Regions from separate parts of the Homo sapiens genome. Here all the other regions are linked to region 3. The links come from fine-mapping of genetic effects on gene expression. A gene starts in region 3. Each other region holds a variant in brackets. All regions are shown on one strand. Distances are between the middles of the regions.

Region 1 (8,185 bases), 34 kb after region 3:
TGTCAATTTTATATCTTTCCTACTTTCTCTTGTGGGCATTTAGTGCTATAAGTTTCCCTCTACACACTGCTTTAAATGTGTCCCAGAGATTCTGGTATGTTGTCTTTGTTCTCATTGGTTTCAAAGAACATCTTTATTTCTGCCTTCATTTCGTTATGTACCAGTAGTCATTCAGGAGCAGGTTGTTCAGTTTCCATGTAGTTGAGCAGTTTTGAGTGAGTTTCTTAATCCTGAGTTCTAGTTTGATTGCACTGTGGTCTGAGAGACAGTTTGTTATAATTTCTGTTCTTTTACACTTGCTGAGGAGTGCTTTACTTCCAACTATGTGGTCAGTTTTGGAATAAGTGTGATGTGGTGCTGAGAAGAATGTTTATTCTGTTGATTGGGGTGGAGAGTTCTGTAGATGTCTATTAGGTCTGCTTGGTGCAGAGCTGAGTTCAGTTCCTGGGTATCCTTGTTAACTTTCTGTTTTGTTGATCTGTCTAATGTTGACAGTGGGGTGTTAAAGTCTCCCATTATTATTGTGTGGGAGTCTAAGTCTCTTTGTAGGTCACTCAGGACTTGCTTTATGAATCTGGGTGCTCCTGTATTGGGTGCACATATATTTAGGATAGTTAGCTCTTCTTATTGAATTGATCCCTTTACCATTTTGTAATGGCCTTCTTTGTCTCTTTTTATCTTTCTTGGTTTAAAGTCTGTTTTATCAGAGACTAGGATTGCAACCCCTGCTTTTTTTTTGTTTTCCATTTGCTTGGTAGATCTTCCTTCATCCCTTTATTTTGAGCCTATGTGTGTCTCTGCACGTGAGATGGGTCTCCTGAATACAGCACACTGATGGGTCTTGACTCTTTATCCAATTTGCCAGTCTGTGTCTTTTAATTGGAGCATTTAGCTCATTTACACTTAAGGTTAATATTGTTATGTGTGAATTTGATCCTGTCATTATGATGTTAGCTGGTTATTTTTCTCGTTAGTTGATGCAGTTTCTTCCTAGCCACGATGGTCTTTACAATTTGGCATGTTTTTGCAGTGGCTGGTACCAGTTGTTCCTTTCCATGTTTAGTGCTTCCTTCAGGAGCTCTTGTAAGGCAGGCCTGGTGGTGACAAAATCTCTCAGCATTTGCTTGTCTTTAAAGGATTTTGTTTCTCCTTCACTTACGAAGCTTAGTTTGGCTGGATATGAAATTCTGGGTTGAAAATTCTTTTCTTTAAGAATGTTGAATATTGGCTCCCACCCTCTTCTGGCTTGTAGAGTTTCTGCCGAGAGATCCGCTGTTAGTCTGATAGGCTTCCCTTTGTGGGTAACCCGACCTTTCTCTCTGGCTGCCCTTAACATTTTTTCCTTCATTTCCAACTTTGGTGAATCTGACAATTATGTGTCTTGGAGTTGTTCTTCTCGAGGAGTATCTTTGTGGCATTCTCTGTATTTCCTGAATCTGAATGTTGGCCTGCCTTGCTAGATTGGGGAAGTTCTCCTGGATAATATCCTGAAGAGTGTTTTCCAACTTGGTTCCATTCTCCCAGTCACTTTCAGGTACACCAATCAGATGCAGATTTAGTCTTTTCACATAGTCCCATATTTCTTGGAGGCTTTGTTCATTTCTTATTACTCTTTTTTCTCTGAACTTCTCTTCTCGCTTCATTTCATTCATTTGATCTTCAATCACTGATACCCTTTCTTCCACTTGATCAAATCAGCTACTGAAGCTTGTGCATGCGTCATGTAATTCTCGTGCCGTGGTTTTCAGCTCCATCAGGTCATTTAAGGTCTTCTCTACGCTGTTTATTCTAGTTAGCCATTCGTCTAATCTTTTTTCAAGGTTTTTAACTTCTTTGCGATGGGTTCGAACATCCTCCTTTAGCTCGGAGAAGTTTGTTATTACCGATCATCCGAGGCCTACGGCTGTCAACTCATCAAAGTCCTTCTCTGTCCAGCTTTGTTCCATTGCTGGCGAGGAGCTGCGTTCCTTTGGAGGAGAAGAGGCACTCTGAGTTTTAGAATTTTCAGCTTTTCTGCTCTGGTTTCTCCGCATCTTTGTGGTTTTATCTGCCTTTGGTCTTTGATGATGGTGACCTACAAATGGGGTTTTGGTGTGGATGTCCTTTCTGTTTGTTAGTTTTCCTTCTAACAGTCAGGACCCTCAGCTGCAGGTCTGTTGGAATTTGCTGGAGGTCCACTCCAGACCCTGTTTGCCTGAGTATCACCAGCAGAGGCTTCAGAACAGCAAATATTGCAGAACGGCAAATGTTGCTGCCTGATCCTTTCTCTGGAAACTTCGTCTCAGAGGGGTACCTGGCTGTATGAGGTGTCATTCGGCCCCTCCTGGGAGTTGTCTCCCAGTTAGGCTACTCGGGGGTCAGGGACCCACTTGAGGAGGCAGTCTGTCCGTTGTCAGATCTCATACTCTGTGCTGGGAGAACCACTACTCTCTTCAAAGCTGTCAGACAGGGATGTTTAAGTCTGCAGAAGTTTCTGCTGCCTTTTGTTCAGCTATGCCCTGCCCCCAGAGGTGGCGTCTATAGAGGCAGGCAGGCCTCCTTGAGCTGCAATGGGCTCCACCCAGTTCAAGCTTCCCGGCTGCTTTGTTTACCTACTCAAGCCTCAGCAATGGTGGATGCCCCTCCCCCACCCTTGCTGCTGCCTTGCAGTTCAATCTTGGACTGCTGTGCTAGCAGTGAGCGAGGCTCCGTGGGCGTGGGACCCTCCAAGCCAGGTGTGGGATATAATCTCCTAGTGTGCCATTTGCTAAGACCATTGGAAAAGTGCAGTATTAGAGTGGGAGTGTCCTGATTTTCCAGGTACCATCTGTCACGGCTTCCCTTGGCTAGGAAAGGGAATTCCCCGACCCCTTGCCCTTCCTGGGTGAGGCGATGCCCAGCCCTGCTTCTGCTCACACTCCGTGGGCTGCACCCACTGTCCAATAAGCCCGAGTGAGATGAACCCGGTGCCTCAGTTGGAAATACAGAAATCACCTGTCTTCTGCGTCGCTGACGCTGGGAGCTGTAGACTGGAGCTGTTCCTATTCGGCCATCTTGGAACCAAGATCAAGGGAACTTCATTTTTCATCCACAAAACTTTTTTGCTGAGAGATCAAAATATTTTGAGTATTTCATGCAGCAGATCTAGGGGAAAATGGCAAATTAAACACAGTTGGCCCCGTTGTGTCTGTTTTCTGTCCTCTCTCTCTCTCTTTTTTTTTTTTTTGAGACAGAGTCTCGCTCTGTTTCCCAGGCTGCAGTGCAGTGGCACGGTCTCGGCTCACTGCAACCTCTGCCTCCCGGATTCAGGTGATTCTCCTGCCTCAGCCTCCTGAGTGTCTGGGATTACAGGTGCTTGCTACCACACCCAGCTAATTTTTTGTATTTTTAGTAGAGACAGGGTTTGAGAATGTTGACCAGGTTGGTCTTGAACCCCTGACCTCGTGATCTGCCTGCCTCAGTCTCCCAAAGTGCTGGGATTACAGGCATGAGCCACTGCACCCGGCCTCTCTTCTCTTTGATCTGTCTGTCTGTCTACCTATCATCTAGTCATTCTGAAGCAGAGGCAGGCAATGGAGGTGTAGTTCAAAAATGATTTTAAAATTATAATTTTTTACAACCATGTATTTCTCCTGCAAATTAAGATCTGCCTGTTATTATCTCCAAGACAGATGCCAGACTTAAACGCTCATTTTGCTTTAATTTGGGCCAACCATTTTTTTTTTTTTTTTTTTTTTGCTCTCATTAAAATGTGTATGGCATCTAGGAGCATCTTTTAAATAATCTGGTAAATACCCTTCAAAGTGAAGTGGTAAAAGAATGGTGTTTTAATGGGCATGATTTAAGCTAAGTGCATATGTATGAAACTAATTAAAGCATTTAATGATCTGTAGAAGCCTTCTGAATGGTGAAATAGCCAAACCTAAGGAATGGGGAGTGGGTGGAAGTGGGTACTTTGCCATTTTTTCTTTTAGATAACTGCAATTCGAAGACAGTTGTTTATGCTTCATATTCCTTGGCAAAAATGTTTTTGAGAGGAAATATGATAATGATAAAATGAAACAGCACTTTCTGCTAATGACCTAATACTTCAACCCAGGCTCACTTCATCAGAATCACTTACGGAGTTTCAGAGCCACAGGTGGCTGGGTTCCAGCCCGGAGATGTCTACTCAGACTGTGTTGTCATTGTTGTTGTTTTAATCTGCATTTTAAAAAATTCCGTAGGTGATTTTAAAATATAAGAAAAATATTTTTATTAAAGAAGGGGACAGTGGTTTAATCTTCTTATAGAAGCTTTTTTGGAAGTATACATTACAGGAAGGTATACAAATTATATGACTCAGTACATTTTCTCAAAGTAAACACACCCATGTAACTGGCACCTGGAACAAGAAATAAAACATGATCAGGGCCACATAAGTTTCCCATCCTGCCTTCTTGTACTGCTACCCAACCCCCACACAATCACATAACTACTTTCTTGACTTCTACACCCTAGATTAGTCTTTGAACTTCTTTATATAGATGGAAGCATGTGGTATATACCCATTTGAGTCTGGCTGCT[G/T]CTTCTTTTTTTTTTTTTTTTTTTTTTTTAACGTTTTGTTTTGTTGTCGTTGTTGAGACAGAGTCTTGCTCTGTCACCCAGGCTGAATTGCAGTGGCGCAATCTCACCTCACTGCAACCTCCACCTTCCTGGTTCAAGCAATTCTCATGCCTCCCGAGTAGCTGGGATTACAGGCATTCACCAGTAAACCTGGCTAATTTTTGTATTCTTAGTGGAGATGGGGTTTCGCCTTGTTGGCCAGGCTGGTCTCGAACTCCTGGCCTCGGGTGATTTGCCTGCCTCGGCCTTCCAAAGTGCTGGGATTACACACATGAGCCACTGTGCCCAGTCCTGAGTCTGGCTTCTTTTGATCATCATTACATTTGTAAGAATCATCCTTGTAATTTGGTCATTTTTATTGCTGAATAATATTCCATTTTACTAATATACCATAATTGATCCATTCGATTGTGTATGGGCATTTGAGTTGTTTTCAGATTGGTGATTTAAATGGTGCTGCTATGTACATTCTTGTACATGTCCCTTTTGGTAAAATATGTATGCATTTATTTGGCTATATATTCATTTTTGGTTATCTATTGCTACCTAATAAACTACCCCCACATTTAGTGACTTAAAAACAACAGCCATGTTATTGCATGTAATTCTGTGGGTCAGGCATTTGAACAGGGCTTGCTGGGAACAACTTACCTCTGTTCCATGTGTTATCAGTTGAGCTCACTCATCTAGCTGGACTGGGCAGGAAAGATCAAATGGTTTTAATCACATGTCTGGGATTTTGGTATTAGGTATTAACTTGGTTACCTCTCGGCCAGGTGCAGTAACTCATGCCTGTAATCTCAGCACTTTGGGAGGCTGAGGTGGATGGATCACTTGAGATCAGGAGTTCAAGACCAGCCTGGCCAACCCCATCTCTAGTAAAAATACAAAAATTAGCTGGGTGTGTTGGTGCACGCCTGTAATCCCATCTACTCAGGAGACTGAGGCACAAGAATCGCTTGAACCTGGGAGGCGGAGGTTGCAGTGAGCCAAAATCGTGCTACTGCACTCCAGCCTGGGTGACATAGTGAGACTCCATCTCAGAAAAAAAAAAAAAAATTTGGTTACCTCTCTTTTTCTCACGCAGCCTTTCTGTCCATTAGGCTATTCTGGACTTCTTTACATGATGGCTGGGTCCAAGAGGGCAAAGGCAGAAGCTGCCAGGCCTCTTAAGGCCTATGTGCTAGAACTCTGGGAAATCAGTTCTGCCATACTCTATCGGTTAAAACAAGTCACAAGGCCAGACGTGAATTCAGAGCAGTTAAAGAGATATCCATCTCTTCCTCAGAGGAGTGGCAGTATTACAGTATAAAGGGATGTGGACATAGGGAGGCATGATTCCTTGGGGAGCCATTATCATAAAAATGTACCACAAGCCAGGGATAGAAGTTTGGGGTTATAGCGCTTATATCTGTTCAGCTTTATTAGATACTGGCAGACATTTTTACAGGATGGTTGTAACAAGCTATACTCTCACCAGTTCAGTTGCTCCATATCCTCACCAACACTTGCAATAGTACATTCATTTCATTTTAGTCATTCTGGTGAATATCTAGTGGTATCGTATTTCAGGTTTAATTTGCATTTCCCTTTGAGCAGTCAAGTTGCTCACTTTTTTTCTTTTCTTTTTTCTCTTTTTCTTTTTTTTTTTTTTTTTTTTTGAGACAGAGTCTTACTCTGTTCCCCAGGCTGGAGTGCAGTAGCGTAATCTCGGCTCACTGCAACCTCTGCCTCCCGGGTTCAAGCCATTCTCCTGCCTCAGCTTCCTGAGTAGCTGGGACTACAGGCATGTGCCACCACGCCTGGCTAATTTTTGCATTTTTAGTAGAAATGGGTTTCGCCACATTGGCCAGGCTGGTCTCAAACTCCTGACCTCAGGTGATCCGCCCACCTCGGCCTCCCAAAGTGCTGGGATTACAGGCATGAGCCACCGCTCCCGACCAAGTTGCTCACCTTTTTGTATGTTTATTGGTCATGTGGACATCTCATGTGGTGAAGTTCCTGTTCAGGTTTTTTTGTCCATTTTTCTATTGGGTTATTTGTCTTTTTCTTATGAATTTGGAAGAGTTTTCTAACTCTTCTTATTTTATTTTATTTTTTTAGATAGAGTCTCACTCTGTCGCCCAGGCTGGAGTGCAGTGGCATGACCTCGGCTCCCTGCAACCTCCCCGCTGCCCAGGTTCAAGTGATTCTCGTGCCTCAGGCTCCCGAGTAGCTGGGATTACAGGCATGCACCACCATGCCTGGCTAATTTTGTATTTTTAGTAGATACGGGGTTTCTTCCATGCTGGTCAGGCTGGTCTCAAACTCCCGACCTCAGGTGATCCACCCGCCTCGGCCTCCCAAAGTGCTGGGATTACAGGCGTGAGCCATTGCGCCCGGCCTAAATAGGATATTTTTAGGAACCAGAAGGTTATTTAACATTTCCAGATATCGGGGCCACCAGATTAATGGTCTTAACTCTGGGGCATGGAGTATCTTGAGACACGTTGGGTACTCTGAAGATAAGAGGTGACCCTGGAAGCAGTCATACTTGTCCTTGTAATCCTACCACCTCTTGATGATCAATTATAACAGTTGATCTCCCTGTGCTACTACTTTAAGAGCTCAAAACCAGTGCATAGGACTCCATGGGGTGTAGAGACTCCACAGAAACATTCCCAGTCCACTTTTCACACATCAGCCTCCTCCCACAGGCAGAAAGCCGAAGCTGCCATACATAGCCATAGGTTTAAACAGAGACTGGCGGAAGCGGGGAGTGGGATGGAGTGTGTGGAAGTGTTGTTTTCACTTTTCTTTCTGCTTCTCAGATCAGCCAAAATGTCCTATCGGACCAGGTATTTTATATTTTTTGTTGCTATGGTGAATAGAACATTTTCCCCATTATATCTTCCATTGGTTATCGGTAGTGTTTAGTAAAGCTTTTGAATTATGTCAATTTATCTTATATTGTGCTACTATTAAGTAATAATAATATTTTTATTGTTGATATTTGTTACATGTTTACCATGTGCCATGTATTTAAGTGCTTTAAATACATCATTTCATTTAGTCTTCATGACAAACCAGTGAGATTAGTAGTATTATCATCCCCTTTTTGTAGATATGGAATCTGAGGCTTAGAAGGCAATCTCCCAAGGTTATTCATCTCATTGGTGGAGAAGCTGTGATTCAAACCAGTGTGATTAATGTCTATATTTTATACATATAAAAAATATAAAATATATATTTATTATAGTATTTATATAATATATATTCCATATAATTATATATTTATATGGAATATATATTATATATTATATAATTATATTATATATATTATATAATTATATTATATATATTATATATTATAATATAATTATATATTATATTATATTCCATATAATTATATAGAATATATATTATATATATATATATTTATTTTCGAGACAGGGTCTCACTCTGTCACCCAGACTAGAGCACAGTAACATGATCATGGCTCACTGCAGCCTCGACCTCCTGGGCTCAGATGATCCTCCTACCTCAGGCTCCCGAGTAGCTGGGACTAGAGGCACGCACCACCATGCCCAGCTAATTTTTTTGCATTTTTTGTAGGGGTTTT
Region 2 (8,185 bases), 24 kb before region 3:
CCCCCTACAGACTATTCTCCACACAGTAGCCAGAGTGGTCCTTTCAAGATTCAGATTAGCTCTCATCATTCTGTGCAAAACCCTTCAATGGCTCCCTACCTCAACTAGAAAAGCTGAAGCCTTACAGTGGCCTACAAGGCTTGTGCCTCTCTGGTTATAAATCCTCTTACTGGCCAAGCACAGTTGATCATGCTTGTAATCCCAGCACTTTGGAGGCCAAGGTGGGCAGACACTTGAGGCCAGGAGTTTGAGACCAGTCTGGCCAGCATGATGAAATCCCGTCTCTACTAAATATACAAAAATTAGCCAGGTATGGTGGCATGCACGTGTAATCCCAGCTACTTGGGAGGCTAAGATGGGAGGATCGCTTGAGCCTGGGAGGCGGAGGTTGCAGTGAGCCGTGACTGTGCCATTACACCCCAGCCTGGGTCACAGAGCAAGACCCTGTCCTCAAAAAAAAAAAAAAAAAAAATCCTATAACTTTGCCTTTGCTTTGACTGCACTCCAGCCACACCGGCCTGCTTGCTGCCCTTCAGTTACACTAGGCCTCTCCTGCCTCGGGGCCTTTGCTGCTGCTGCTGCTGCTGCTGCTGCTCTCAGCCTCGAATAGTTTTTCCTTAGATCACGCTGTTGCTTGTTCTCTCACCTTGCTCGGGTCATACCCAGATATCTTCTCAGTGAGGCCTTTCCTGACTGTCTACTGAAAATTGCTATTATTCTTTTCCATTCATGCTAGAGACTCACTGCCCCCCTTTCCTGCTTATTTTTCTCTGCAGCACTAAATTTCTTCTCTTTTTTTTTTTTTTTTTGATACGGCATCTCGCTCTGTCGCCCAGGCTGGAGTGCAATGGCGTGATCTCGGTTCACTGCAACCTCCGCCTCCTGGGTTCAAATGATTCTCCTGCCTCAGCATCCCGAGTAGCTGGGACTATAGGCACCTGCCACCACGCCCAGCTAATTTATATATATAAATATTTTTAAATTTTATTATTATTATACTTTAAGTTTCAGGGTACATGTGCACAACGTGCAGGTTTGTTACATATGTATACGTGTGCCATGTTGGTGTGATGCACCCATTAACTCGTCGTTTAGCATTGGGTATATCTCCTAATGCTATCCCTCCCCCTCCCCCCACCCCACAAGAGTTCCCGGTGTGTGATGTTCCCCTTCCTGTGTCCATGTGTTCTCATTGTTCAATTCCCACTTATGAGTGAAAACATGCAGTGTTTGGTTTTTTGTCCTTGCGATAGTTTGCTGAGAATGATGGTTTCCAGTTTCATCCATGTCCCTACAAAGGACATGAACTCATCATTTTTTATGGCTGCATAGTATTCTATGGTGTATATGTGCCACATTTTCTTAATCCAGTCTATCGTTGTTGGACATTTGGGTTGGTTCCAAGTCTTTGCTATTGTGAATAGTGCCACAATAAACATACGTGTGCATGTGTCTTTATAGCAGCATGATTTGTAATCCTTTGGGTATATACCCAGTAATGGGATGGCTGGGTCAAATGGTAATAGAGATGGGATTTCACCATGTTGGCCAGGATGGTCTTGATCTCTTGACCTCGTGATCCGCCCACCTTGGCCTCCCAAAGTGCTGGGATTACAGGCGTGAGTCACTGCGCCTGGCCTGCAGCACTAAATTTCTACATATTTACTAATTTATTTTGTTGATTGTCCCCACCATCCTCGACTGGAATGAAAGATCCATGAGGGCATGGATTTGGCTTCATTCTCTGTTGTATTACGCAGAGTCTAAATAGTTTCCAGCATATAGTAAGTGCTCAGTGAATATGTCTTGAAAACAATGTGTCAGTGTTGAGGGTGACTCAAGCCAGGGCAATGAGTTCCAGTAAGAGCTAATCCTGGATTTTTGCTTGACTTCTTGAGCAGAGACGTTTCCTAATTCACCCTGGACTTGAACGTGAGATGATGTAGAGGCTGGCACTTCTGCTGCCATCTTACTATTGCGTTATATTAGGGCTCTTGGTTGCATACAACAGAATCCTCTTGTTCAAAATATTCACTTTTCTTCCCCATGTAGGATTTTGACACCATGGTCCCCCGATAGACTTGCCCAGGTGGCTTTGCTTTGCCCAGTTGAATGTGAGCAGAAGTGATGAGTATCACTTCCAAGCAAAAGTGTAAGAGCCAGTGTGGTGGCTGCTTCTGTCCTTCCCCTTTGCTGCAAGAAGAACAGCAATGCCCCATAGACAGGTTGGCCTGAGTTTCAGAGGGAAGGCTCCATGTTACATAACTGCAGCCCATCTGCACTGTCCGCGGAACTGGAGTGCAAAACAAACCTTTATCATTGTAAGCCACTAACGTTTGGGGTTGTTACGAAAGCATAACACCACCTAAGCGGCTTCAACACTCCCACAAGTTTAAGAGGAAAAGGAGTTTATTAAAGGACACCAGATGGCTCACAGGATCTCCAAGAAGGCCTCGGTGACTCCAAAGCCAGGAATGATGTCCAAATCTCACTGAGGGACTGCACCAGCGCAGGTGCGCACTGCTGCCTCCTCTGAGTACATATTTAGTAAGTCACACCAGTGTTGGAGCCCAGAATCTTGACCACTGCTGTCTCTGGAAACTGGACACCTCTGCCACTAACCTTGGCAGTAGATGGCCTTTGGGAGCCCTCCACGTCTTCAGGTTGCCCTCTTCTGGATTGAAGTCGCTGGCAGAGCTGAGTTTACCTGCCTGTGCTCTTGCTATCAAAGAGGCTGGAAAAGCAAATTTCTTGTTTCTACTTTGGCGAGTTAGGAGTCAAACAGGAGGAATTACCAAGACATAGGGAGGAGGTTCAGAAGTTAGTGAATGACCATGAAGCATGAAAGACGTCCACGACCTGCTGGAGACCTGAGGATGGAGCGGACACCAAGGGATCCCAGCTGAGCAATAGAGCAGCTGGGTGCCATGACTTACGCCCCGGCCCCAGTCATGCATATACCATTGACTCTTCAGTTATTTGAGGAAACCATTCCTAGCTTTGCTTAAGCCAGCTGGAATGGGCTTACTGACACTTGCAATGGAAAGAGTCCTAATGATCTGTGTCTCAAATGGATGAGCGTTGGCACAGTGGCTAACGGTGGTGCCCTGGCTCGGATGCCTGAAAGTTTTGGTTGTTCTCAGTCCCCAGTAAGTGGGGATGAGGCTGACAGTTATGGGAATGGCCGCTTCTGGTAGGGTAGGTGTATTAATCTGTTCTCACGCTGCTAATAAAGACAAACCCCAGACTGGGCAATTTATAAAGGAAAGAGGTTTAGTGGACTCACAGTTCCAGTGGCTGAGGAGGCCTCACAATCATGGCGGAGGATGAAGGAGGAGCAAAGGGACGTCTTACATGCTGGCAGGCAAGAGAGAAATGAGAGCCAGGCAAAAGGGGAAGCCAAAACCATCAGATCTCATGAGACTTATTCACTCTCATGAGAACAGCATGGGAAAGACCTGCCCCATGATTCGATTGCCTCCCCTCCGGGTCCCTCCCACGACACGTGGGAATTGTGGGAGCTACAATTCAAGATGAGATTTGGGTTGCAGCACAGCCAAACCGTATCACCTGGGTTGTGGTTTCCCTGTCTGCTGGGGAGCCAGTAGTTCTCATGTACAGCAGGGCGCTTGCTCACGTGTGGCACAGTAACCAGGCCAGGTACAATTATACAGTGGGCAACATGTCTGTGTCAGATAGTGCTAGTTGCTTATCTACTAGCAGATATTGAGGAAAAGAGGAATATCCGTTCCTCTTTTCCTCAATAAGACAAGTAAAAACGCACAGTTGTACAGTGCTTGCTGTGTATTAGGGACTATTCTAAGTGCTTCACTCGTATTAACTCATTGAATCCTCATGAGAACCCTGTACTATTATCATAGTTTGCAGGTGAGGAAATCGAGGCACAGAGTAAGTTGGTAACTTGACCAAGTCACACAGTGACATAAAGAAGCAAGGTTCTAAGCCCAGACCATCTGGCTCCGTGGGCTGTGCTTAGCCTCTGCACTATAGTGCCTGATTTTGTTTGCTTTGGTGATGTGTCTGGCTAAAACAGCTTCATTTCCTTGAAAGGAGGTAGACCCATTTGGTATCCCCCCTTTTGCCCATAGTTCATCTCTTTCTGCCTGGAACGTGAGTGTGGTGCTAGAAGGAGGGCATCACTTTCTGTCGTGATTACTATTTTGCACCCATGAGTTGACAATTGGGAAGAAGAAAGCTGCATGGCTTGGCCTAAAGAAGGAAGGTGCCTGGGTCCCAGCCCCAGATTCCCTACTCCAGATTCCTTGTGAAATGAATAATAAAATCCCTCATTTTTAATGCTACTGTTTAGTAGAAGTTTCAGTTATATGAGGAAAAATACAGATCCTACTGATTGAACCTTTGCACATAGCTCACCCGTAGCTCTCTCCTGTACCATTTTGACAATGTCTTTAATTTG[T/C]CCCCCAGCTACCAAGGGCTTGCCCTGTGTTCCAGTCCCTTGATGGAAGTTGTTCATTATCACATGCCTGCAATATGTCTGGGAACACAGTGTTGGGTAGTGCGGGAGCTTTTTTAAAAAAAGTATATGACATGGCCTCATCTCAAGAAGTCTGAAGAACATGAGTTAACCCAAAGGACTCATTTGTTCCAGTATGTTAATGGAAGATAGTGGCTTGATGTGGTTTTCCTAATGTAGGATGTTACTAGATCTGAATTTGGGCCCGGTCTCCTTTCTCTTAAAGAAGAAACTTGACAAAAGAGAAGGCTGATGAGGGATAGGCAGGGTGATAAGCAAAAACCTGTCTAATAGGAAAGAAGGCCTCACATGGTATACCTCTCCAGACCAGCTATCTATAACCTTCACAATCACCCACGATCACTTTCAGTGAGATTACATTTCCTAGAGATGGCCACTCGAGAGAGAAACAGATGAGCTTAGAATGTTTTGTCTCCCCCTCTCTTACTTAACCTATCTTGGGATGTGTCTAGTATCTTTTTCTCTCTCTCTTTTTTTTTTTTTTTTAATTTGAGGCAGAGTCTCACTCTGTCGCCCAGGCTGGAGTGCAGTGGCACAATCTTGGCTCACTGCAACCTCCACCTCCCGGGTTCAAGCGATTCTCCTGCCTCAGCTTCCCAAGTAGCTGGGATTCCAGGTATCCGCCACCACGCCTTGCTGATTTTTGTATTATTAGTAGGGATGGATTTTCACCATGCTGCCCAGGCTGATCTTGAACTCCTGACATCAGGTGATCTGCCTGCCTTGGCCTCCCAAAGTGCTGGGATTACAGGCCTGAGCCACCACACCCGGCAGAGATGTGCCTAGTTTCTAAAGTCACTCCCCTGTGACTAGGTAACTGAACACAGAACAATTTGACTACTACTGCCCACTCCTCTAGAGTCCCATTTAAAAGGCAACACCTGATAGCAGCCAGTGCTAATTGGTGATGGAAATGGAATGGGTTACTCCCTCGACTCCCACAACACTTACTGCCTGATTTGTTTCCACATGGATTCAACTGGGCACGCAATAAGACTTGCCTCTAAGCTTTCTGCACAGTCTGAGGGAAAGATTTCAAGTGTGGTGCAGGTGTTAAACTCCAGTCATATTGTGTATTTTTACTAATGATTTCAAGAATTGGGGATCTTTTGGATACAATTTGGGTAGAGTCCTAAGGCCATCTACAGTAATAAAAGCAAAACCAATTAGTAGGTTGTTTAATTCATTTAGAGGCTATCTGCATGCTAGCAGTTTTCCTCTGCTAAATCCTGTTAAGATGCAGTGGGTTCTGCCAGGCACGGTGGCTCACGCCTGTAATCCCAGCACTTTGGGAGGCCGAGGAGGGTGGATCACGAGGTCAGGAGATCGAGACCATCCTGGCTAACACGGTGAAACCCCATCTCTACTAAAAATACAAAAAATTAGCCGGCCGCGGTGGCGGGTGCCTGTAGTCCCAGCTACTTGAGGGGCTGAGGCAGGAGGATGGCGTGAACCCGGGAGGCGGGGCTTGCAGTGAGCCGAGATCTCGCCACTGCACTCCAGCCTGGGTGAAAGAGCGAGACTCCATCTCAAAAAAAAAAAAAAAAAAAGAAAAAAAAGCAGTGGGTTCTATTTTGTGCAGACGGAGTAGGCTGCCATGACAACTGTCTGTGAATATTATTTCAATATTAGTCATACATTTCTAGCGTCTGCTTCTGGGCTCAGCGTTCTTCTAAAGCCTGGATACAAATTTATTCTTAATGGACCTCTCCTGGACGTGTTTACAAAAAGAACAAAAACAAAACACTTTCAACTGGCTGACTTTTTTTTTCTTTCAGAAGAGAAATTTGAATGAATTCACACAACTGAAAATTGATTGTGAATCTTATTGTCATTTTTTCTTTTAAAAAGGTGATTGTGATGTGAACTTATATGGTGCTGGATTATAGATTTTACTGAATAGAAGCACTACACCAGGATTTGGAAAGTTCCCCTGTAGGCATGTAGTCCTTACAGTAAAATTATTATTTTTTTCTTCTAACAGTATCAGAAAGAATCTTGTAGTTGCCTGTGGCAGAAGATCCGACCCAAACTGAGCAAAACCAGTTTCAAACGAATCTGGTTTGAAACTTCCGAAGGTAAGATTTGATCCAGAGACTAAGGATGGAGGGCTCCGGCTCCATTTCCCTGCCTTTTGGTTGGCCCTTCCCCATGTATCAATTTCACCCCCTGGACTGGCTCTTCTCATGGTGAAACCTTGCTCAGAGCACCACACTAGGGGGAGATAAGTGAGTCTGTCCCAGCACTCTCTCCAGGTACCCCGAGATTCACTCATAATATCTTTCTTTAGCTATACGCCCACCCCAAACACTCCTTTTTGCCAGGAGAAGAGGATATGCTGTCTTAGGCCTGAATTATGTGCTTGTTCCTGAAAAGTTGCTGTTGCTTGGGGAGTGGGCTCGGATAATTGGCTTAAGTCAACCAGGGCCCGCGCTTAGAGTTGGGGGCTGCGTCAGTCCCATGCAAATCACTTGGCTAAAAAACAGGAAGCGGGGGTGATTTCGAAAAGGAAAATTGTGATTCTATTACAAGGAAGTTAGGGGACTATTTGCTAGCCACCTGGTTAGGGAACAGAATGCTGGCCTAATGATAATAATAATAGCTAACATTTATTGAATACTATGAGCCAGGCACCAAGCTGCTTTATAGTTGTATTGGTTAGAGAATGTGTTTGGCTGCCTGAAATAAGGTAAATAGAACACCAGGGGCTTAACACAGAGCGCTTGGTTTTCGTCCCACATGATACGAAGCCAGGAGATATACAGTGTCACATTGTCATCCAGGTCTCAAGCTCGTCCCTCCATCCTGCATCCATCCTGCATCATGGTTTCGCTATTCTCAGTGTGAGGCTTTCTTCCTAGTGTGCATGAGATGGCTGCTCCTCCTCCAGGCATTGTGTCCTGGTTCCAGGCAGAATAGGGGGAAGGACAAAAGAGAAGAGGCTTATGCCAGCTGAGTCTTTTCCTTTTTATCAGGAAAATAGCTTTTCTGGAAGCCTCAGCCCATAGATTTCTGCTTGTATCTCAAGGGCTAGAACTGTGTCACATGACTACCCATAGTTGCAAGGGAGCCTAGCAAATCAAGTTTTGTTGCCCGAACACTGCCACCTAGAACAAAACGGGGGTTTTATTAGTAAGGAACAGGGGGAGAATGGACAGTAATGATCAGTGGCTGCTACAATGTGTGTTAACCCATTCATTCGTTACGTCAACCCAGTGTGATTGGTGCTATCTGTAGCCTCGTTTTATAGTTGAAGCAATAGGCACAGAGAGGTTATGTAATTTGCCCAAGCTCACACAGAGCTGTTAAGTGGTTGAGCAAGAACTTGAACCCAAGCAAGCTGACTCTAGAATCTAATTCTATTATGTCCCTAGACACATCCTGACCCACTGGCCAGACCACATTTCTTCTCTAGGATGTATATCCACTTGGGAAATGCAGGCCTCTCCTGGAAATGGTAGCTAATACTTGTTTAGCACTTTATAGTTTACAAAGAGATTGCCACTTAAATTATTCTCTTTAAATATTCTTCTTTTTTTTTTTTTTTTTTTTTGAGACAGAGTCTCACTCTGTTGCCCAGGCTGGAGTGCAGTGGCACGATCTCAGCTCACTGCAACCTCCACCTCCCAGGTTCAAGTGATTCTCGTGCCTCAGCCTCCGGAGTAGCCG
Region 3 (8,185 bases):
CAGTTGTGTTTGTTGTGGATTAACTGAGGGGTGACTGAAAACCAAATGCCTCTGGAGAGATATTGAGACAGTGCTTTTTTTTTTCTGGAAAAAGAAAATCGAAATTGAAATATGTCAATCAGTCCAATCAGTGTTTATGGCCTACTAAATGCTCAATTCTTTTTTTCCCCTGTTTTCTTTTTTAAATTAAAAAACATACCTTTTTTTTTTTTTTTTTTTAAAGTCAGGATTTCACTCTGTCACCCAGGCTGGAGTGCAGTGGTGTGATCACGGCTCGCTGCATCCTTGACCTCCCAGGCTCAGGTGATCCTCCCACCTCAGCCTCCTGAGGAGCTGGGACTACAGATGTGCACCACCATGCCTGGCTAATTTTTTGTATTTTTTGGTAGAGATGGGGTCTCCCTATGTTGCCCAGGCTGGTCTCGAACTCCTGGGCTCAAAGGATCCATCTGCCTCAGCCTCCCAAAGTGCTAGGATTACGAATGAGAGCCACTGTGCCCAGCCCCAATTCTTATGTCTTCATAAAAAGGGGTGGAAAAAATAGCATGAGGATGGAGCGAAGCCCAAGCGAGATTTGGATACTGTTGGAAAATAGTGTTTCTTCAACTGAGATATGGGGATTCCTTGCATCAAAGTTCTCGGCATGGTGCACTTTAAATGTGTATTCCAAGGCACTGGACTTTTGAATCTGAGTATTGTTAGTAAAGCCTGGGAATCTGCATCCCCCCACCCCCAATAAGTCTTGTGAGCACTCGAGTTGGAGAGCACTGATCTAGGCACCTGGAGAATGTCACCAGGACTAGATGAATTCCTAGATGAACAGTGCCCCAATTTCAAAAATGAGAAAAGAATATATGCTAGAAGCCACAGACTTGATATGACCTCTGGAAAAATTCAGCTTGAAATAGATGGAGCCAAAGCATTTCTAGGAAAATGTGATCATCACTATGCAGCACCGTGGGTTTTCTAAAATACCGTCTCTATTACAGATTGTCAAACTTTGTTGTGTATTAGAATCTGGAAAACTGAAAAAAATCTTGATGCCTCATCCTCCACCCAGTACCAATTATGTCAAATTATCTGGGGGTGGGACTTGGGCATCAGTATTTTTTAAACCCCAAGAGATTCTGACTTAATGAGGTGCAGGCTGAGTACTGGGAGTTTGAAAAGCTCCCCAGGTGACACTCATATGCAACGAAGTATGACAAGCACAGGTCTATATGACATGGGACAAGTTGCTTAACTTCCTTGCACTTTGTGTAAATACTAGGTAATTTTAAAGGTCTCTCTCACCTTTAAACTTCTATGATTTTGTATTAAAAATGTTGCCAAATTGATTTCCTTCCTTTCTTCCTCCCCTGCCCTTCCTTCCTTTTCTCCTCCTCCTTCCCTCTCTCTTCTTTTGCTGGAATAAGCTGGAATGTCAAAGTATCAAAATATATACATATCATCATTTTATTAAAATATTTAGTAAAATTCTCCAGGATGTCTCACAGATAAATGAGAGTTATGATAGGTGAGTTTACCAGCTAACTGAACAAATGTGCTCAGCGAGTATGAAGGTAACGGATCTGTGGTGAACCTGGAGGATGGTTTGGAGTGGGATGCCACAGGGCTCATCCTGCCCTTGGATCTGATCTTGTTAATGTTCTTTAGCCATGATGTAGATAAGGAAGACACGAAAGAAATGCCTATCGAATTTGGAAATAAAGCCAAGCACGGTGGCTGATGCCTGTCATCCCAGCACTTTGGGAGGCTGAGGTGGGCACGTTGCTTGAGGCCAGGAGTTTGAGACCAACTTGGGCAACATGGTGAGACCCCATGTCTACAAAAAAGTACAAAAATTAGCTGGGCATGGTGGCGCATGCCTGTAGTTCCAGCTGCTCAGGAGGCTGAGGTAGGAGAATCACTTGAGCCCGGGAGGTGGAGGCTGCAGTGAGTCATGGTTGCGCCACTGCACTCCAGCCTGGGTGACAGAGCGAGACCTTGTCTCAAAAAATAAATAAAAATTTGGAAGTAACCCAAAGTTTAGGAAGGCTAATTCATTCAATACATAAAATAATCAGGTTCACCTCTGGTCAGAAAATCTGTTTACTAAGCTTATTGTTATTTTCAAAACATGGCCATAGTTCAAATATTTTGCTTATTTTAGTTTTCCCTTTCTTCAGTCGAGTTGAAATTTTGAAGCTTTTGGTGTAGTACCAATGGAAAGATAGATATGTCAGTTGTTTGCTGACTTTGTGCCTGTCAAGAAATGCAAATAGGGCTGGGCAAGATGGCTCACACCTGTGATCCCAGCACTTTGGGAGGACAAGGTCGGAGGATCACTTGAGCCCAGGAGTTTGAGACCAGCCTCGGCAACATAGGGAGACCCTGTCTCTACAAAAAAATAAAATTAGCCGGGTGTCACGGCACATGCTTGGGAGGTTAAGGCTGCAGCGAGCCGTGATTGTGCCACTACACTCCATCCTGGGTGACAGAGTGAGACCCTGTCTGAAAAAAAAAAAAAAAAAAAAGGAATGCAAATATATTAGATCAGGTTGGTTTGGAGCATCACAAAATAAAGGAAACATCACCCTAAAAAGTGACGTGACAGTATACTATGGAAAGGAATTTTGTTGAAAACTCCCGTGAAGTGATTATGGGAGTCAGGGAGCTCATGAGAAGGACTATAGAACACAAAGTTAGACTCCAGAGGGGCCTCAGCAGTGCCCAGAGAGCTTGTTTAAAAGGGCACTCTTGGCCAGGCACGGTGGCTCACGCCTGTCATCCCAGCACTTTGGGAGGCCGAGGCAGGTGGATCACCTGAGGTCAGGAGTTCGAGACCATCCTGGCCAACACAGCAAAACCCCGTCTCTACTAAAAATACAAAAAATTAGCCAGGTGTGGTGGCGCATGCCTGTAGTCCCAGCTACTAGGGAGGCTGAGGCGGGAGGATCACCTGAGCCTGGGAGGTTGAGGCTGCAGTGAGCTGTGATCACACCACTGCACTCCAGCCTGGGTAATAGAGCGAGACTCCGTCTCAAAAAATAAAATAAATAAAAGGACACTCTCACAGATTACAATTCCTAAATTTGGGGGGAGGTTTCAAACCTCCTTTTTTTTTTTTTTTTTTTTTTTTTTTTGAGATGGAGTCTCGCTTTGTCGCCCAGGCTAGAGTACAGTGGTGCGATCTCAGCTCACTGCAACCTCCGCCTCCTGGGTTCAAGCGATTCTGCTGCCTCAGCCTCCTGAGTAGCTGGGATTACAGACATGTGCCACCATGCTTGGCTAATTTTTGTACTTTTAGTAGAGACGGGGTTTCACCATGTTGGCCAGGCTGGTCTCGAACTCCTGACCTCGTAATCCGCCCGCCTCGGCCTCCCAAAGTGCTGGGATTGCAGGCGTGAGCCACTGCGACCGGCTGCCTCCTTTTTTTTAAAACAAATGTTCCCAACTTATTCCGCGAAATACTGTCAAAGAACTCACTTTGAATTTCAGCATAGCTGTTAAATATGTTGTTTTTGTCTCATAGTCAACTTCCAATTTGTGTTTTTAAAAGCCTAGATAGGTTGAATTACTTTGAGCTGAAAACCAAAACAGTTAATTATGTCAGCTCCTCCACATCCCATTCCCCATATTTAAATTAGAAAATCGTACACTCTCATATTTCGATTTTTCTTTTCATTTTGAATGCTCTATTTTATACAGAGCTGGATGTGACCTAGACATGGAGAAACTCATTTATGTCTAGCAGAGAAGCAGCCTATAGCTGCTCTGTAGCTGCTGCTGTGTTTTGGAAAATAAGCCAGGATTAGATTATGTCTGATCACTTTCCACATCACATGATGAACAGCGATTCAGAAGAAGCGTAAAATGAATCCTGCTGAGCAGCCCCTCAGCTACCATGTGGTTAACTGGCGGTTTCCTTCCCTCCCTCCTGTGTATTCCTCATTAGAATCTATGACTGAAGAGGATCGGCTAAGAGTGGTTCCTCGCAGCTTAAAGGGAGGCACTTTTCACACTCTGTCTTAAAATCAGAAGTTGAATTCATGAACACATATGATTTAGATAGAAGTCATGGGATGCAGCAGTTCTTCAACGAAAACCAGGAGATCTGACACATGTGAGTACTGGGAATGTGCCTGTGGTTATGAATGAAAAGGGGAAAATGAGCTGCCCTCACCCTCTTCTCCTTTCTCATTTACTCCCACGATGCTCAAGCTGCCCTGTGTGATTTGCACAAGGCATCGTTAGAGTAGCATAGGAAACTACATTTAGGAAGATGTAGCTTTGAATTTATGAAGTACCATAAAGTATTGTCTTAGAGATATTTTGTGTTTGATTTAATTTCATTCGATAATGTACCAATATAAAATCTCAATTTAAAACTCAGTGGCAGGGAACAAGAAAGGCAGTGTAATTTATATGTGTTTCTTCAATACTTTTATAAATAGCTATATCCCTACTTTTGTGACATTTAGTAGCATCATTGAATTTTTATTGGATTTTATAACTCAATGATCACATTATTTCTATATCTATTCAACACAGAACTTCATGAGATTTGCATCACGTTTTAAAAATAATCTAGGAGAATTGGGAGAATGCTAGATCATCTGTTTCCAAAAAAAAGGTGTATTGTTTCTAAATAGATGGCATGCCTTTCTGTACCCCCATATAATTAGAAGCTTAAATATTCACTTTGTTTATTTTGTACTGAGGTTCTTTCTCATGGCTATTGGCATCTAGTTGAAACAAACTTGAGCATTTAAGGGATAGAGTTTCCAACAAGCAAATTAAAATAAAAACAAGTAAATAAGCTGGGACAATTAATATGAGTAATTTGCTCTTAAACTCCACTTCTTTGATGTCTAGGTTATAGGTAATTCCCCCAACTTCTATTCCACGTCTTGCCTTTGGAAGTTTATTCAGGCTTAAGGTGGAGGGTTTAGGATGCAGAGTGTGCTATACTAATTAGCGTGGGATGTTTTACTTTGGGAATCAAATGTTATTCTCCTACCCAGCTGACTTGTGCTGATGATGTAGGAAACTCATCTCTGAAAGTAGGAAGGGACATAGGAGGTGTACTGACTCTTTCAAATCTTTAAGCATGTCATGAAATAAATCTTTCAAAAGCTCCATCTGAACTCTACTGCTGTAGTAGACGTTTATTAGCAGAGAGTAAAGAGAAATTATCTTTTTATATCTAGGATTACTCACAGTTCTTTAAATTTAGCCAAATTTCCTAGGTTAAAAAAAAAAAAGCCAAGTCCAACTTGTAAAAACAAATCCTCTCTCTTTTTGAAATACTTTTCAACTTTTAAAACATTGCATGTAAGTGGAAATATTAGCTTAGATTTTTGGATTGCTTTTTCTTTCAAATACCTGTGATTTATTGAGGTGAAATTCACGTAACATAAAATTAGCCATTGTCAAGTGAACAACTCAGCAGCAGTTGGTATGTTCACAGTGTCGTGCAACCACAACCCCTATGTACTTCTGAGACATTTCCAACACTCCAAAGTAAAACCCCTTATCCATTAAGCACTTTCTCCTCTCAGCCCCTGGCAACCACAAATCTATATTCAGTCTCTATGGATTTATCTATTCTGGACATTTCATGTAAATGGAGTCATATATTATGTGACCTTTTGTGTCTGGCTTTGTCCATGTTGTAGCATGTATCAGTACTATATTCCTTTTTATTGTGGAATAATATTTCATTGTATGAATATGCCACATTGTATTTATCCATTCATCAATTGATAGACATTTGGATTGTTTCAGCTTTGTTTTTTGTTTTTTGTTTTTTTTGAGACAGTCTTGCTCTGTCACCCAGGCTGGAGTGCAGTGGGGCGATCTCGGCTCGCTGCAACCTCCGCCTCCCAGGTTCAAGCGATTCTCCTGCCTCAGCCTCTGGAGTAGCTGGGATTACAGGCACACACCACCACACCTAGCTAATTTTTGTATTTTTGGTAGAGACAGGGTTTCACCATGTTGGCCAGGCTGGTCTCGAACTCCTGACCTCAGGTGATCTGCCCGCCTCGGCCTCCCAAAGCGCTAGGATTACAGGCGTGAGCCACTGTGCCCGACCTGTTTCAGCTTTTTGACTGTTATGAACAATGCTGCTGTGAACATATGTTTTCCGTTCTCTTGGGTATATACCTAGAAGTGGAATTGCTGGGTCATACGGTAGCTTTATGTTTAACATTTTGAGAAATTTCCAAGCTGTTTTCCCAAGTGACTGCACCATTCTACATTCCTACCAGCAGTGTATAAAGGTTTCAATTTCTCCACATTTTCAGCGATAGTTGTTATTGTCTGTCCTTTTGATTTTAGTCATCCTAGTGGGTATGAAGTGGTATCACACCATGGTTTTCATTTGTATTTCAGTAGTGACTAATGACATTGAGCATCTTTTCATGTGTTTATTGGCTATTTGTATATCTGCTTTGGAGAAATGTCTATTCAGATCATTTACCCATTTTTAATTGAATTATTTATTTTTATATTGTTGTAAGATAAATTTATATATTCTAGATACAAGTTTCCTATCAAATATGTGACTTGCAAATATTTTCTCTCATTTGTTGAATTCTCTTCATCCTTTCTTAATGGTGTTCTTTGAAGCACAAAAGTTTTTACTTTTGATGAAGTTCACTTTATTTTTTCTTTGGTTGCTTGTGATTTTGGTGTCATATCTAAGAATCCATTCCCGAGTCCAAAAAGATTTTTGCTCACGTCTTACTTTAAGAGTTTTGTAACAACTCAACAAGAAAAAAAAGATAACTCCATTAAAAAGTGGGCAAAGGTCATGAACAGACATTTTTTCAAAAGAAGGCATACAAATGGCTAACAAACACACGAAAAAAATGCTCAACATCACTAATCATCAGGTAAATGCAAATTGAAACCATAATGAGATACCACCTTACATACCGGTCAGAATGGCTATTACTAAAAAGTCAAAAAATAAGAGATGTAGGCAAGGATGTAGGGAAAAGGGAATGTTTATCACTGCTGGTGGGAATGTAAATTAGTACAACCTCTGTGGAAAACATTATGGAGATTTCTCAAAGAACTAAAAATAGAGCTACCAAACTACCATTTCATCCAGCAATCCCACCACGGAGTCTACCCAAAGGAAGTCATTATATCAAATAGATATCTACACTCTTATGTTTACCGCAGCACTATTTACAATAGCAAAGATATGGAATCACCGTAAGTGTTTTTCAATGGATGATTGGGTAAAGAAAATGTGTGGTGTATGTATATGTAAGTGTGTGTGTGTGTATATATGTGTGTGTGTGTATGTGTGTGTATATATACGTATATATGTATGTATGTGTGTGCATATATATATGTATATATATGTGTGTGTGTGTGTATATATATATATATGCATGCCATGGAATACTACTCAGCCATAAAAAAGAATGAAATCATGTCTTTTGCAGCAACATGGATGGAACAAGAAGCCATTATCCTAAGTGAAATTACTCAAAAAACAGAAAGTCAAATACCCCATGTTCTCACTTAAAAGTGGGAGCTAAATAATGTATACATATGGGCATCCAGAATACAATAATAGACACTGGAGACTCAGAAAGCTGGGAGGGTGGGAGGGGGGTGAGGTATGAGAAATTACCTAATGAGTACAATGTATGCTACTTGGGTAATGGTTACGCTAAAAGCCCAGACTTCATTATACATGTAACAAAATTACACTTATACCCCCTAAATATATATGTTTTTAAAGGCCAAAAAAAGTTTTGTACTTTTAGCTCTTACTTTTAGGCATTTGAACCATTTTGAGTTGCTGATTTTCACGTATGGTGTGAGGTAGGAGTACAAATTCATTTTTTGCATGTGGATATCCAGTTGTCTCAGCACTGTTTGTTGAAAAGATTGTTCTTTCCCCATTGAATCCTCTTAGCACCATTGTCAAAAATCAATTGACCATAAATGTTTATTTCTGGGCTCTCAATTCTATTCCAGTGATCTGTATGTCTTTCTTATGCCAGTACCAGTGTCTGGATTACTATAGCTTTTTTTTTTTTTTTTTGAGACGGAGTCTTACTCTTGTAGCCCAGGCTGGAGTGCAATGGCACAATCTCAGCTCACTGCAACCTCCGCCTCCCAGGTTCAAGTGACTCTCCTGCCTCAGCCTCCGGAGTAGCTGGGATTACAGGCACAAACC

Evidence for each region. PIP is the estimated chance that this variant, and not a neighbour inherited with it, causes the effect.
Region 1: its variant is fine-mapped to the expression of PPEF1 in whole blood (TOPMed, PIP 0.94).
Region 2: its variant is fine-mapped to the expression of PPEF1 in whole blood (TOPMed, PIP above 0.99).

The regions. Positions count from the first base shown.
Region 1 is chrX:18,737,223-18,745,407 of GRCh38, forward strand. All of the region lies in intron 3 of PPEF1 (protein phosphatase with EF-hand domain 1), which reads left to right. Among named protein-coding and RNA genes, the nearest start is that of PPEF1, 34 kb to the left of the region's middle. The variant G/T (reference allele first, on the strand shown) is at 4,546.
Region 2 is chrX:18,679,638-18,687,822 of GRCh38, forward strand. It overlaps a transcript of PPEF1 not described here. Among named protein-coding and RNA genes, the nearest start is that of TRV-TAC1-2, 8.7 kb to the left of the region's middle. The variant T/C (reference allele first, on the strand shown) is at 4,439.
Region 3 is chrX:18,703,722-18,711,906 of GRCh38, forward strand. It overlaps PPEF1 (protein phosphatase with EF-hand domain 1), which reads left to right and starts at 3,924. Exons shown (of 16, transcript NM_001377996.1): 1 at 3,924-4,105. The coding sequence starts at 4,060.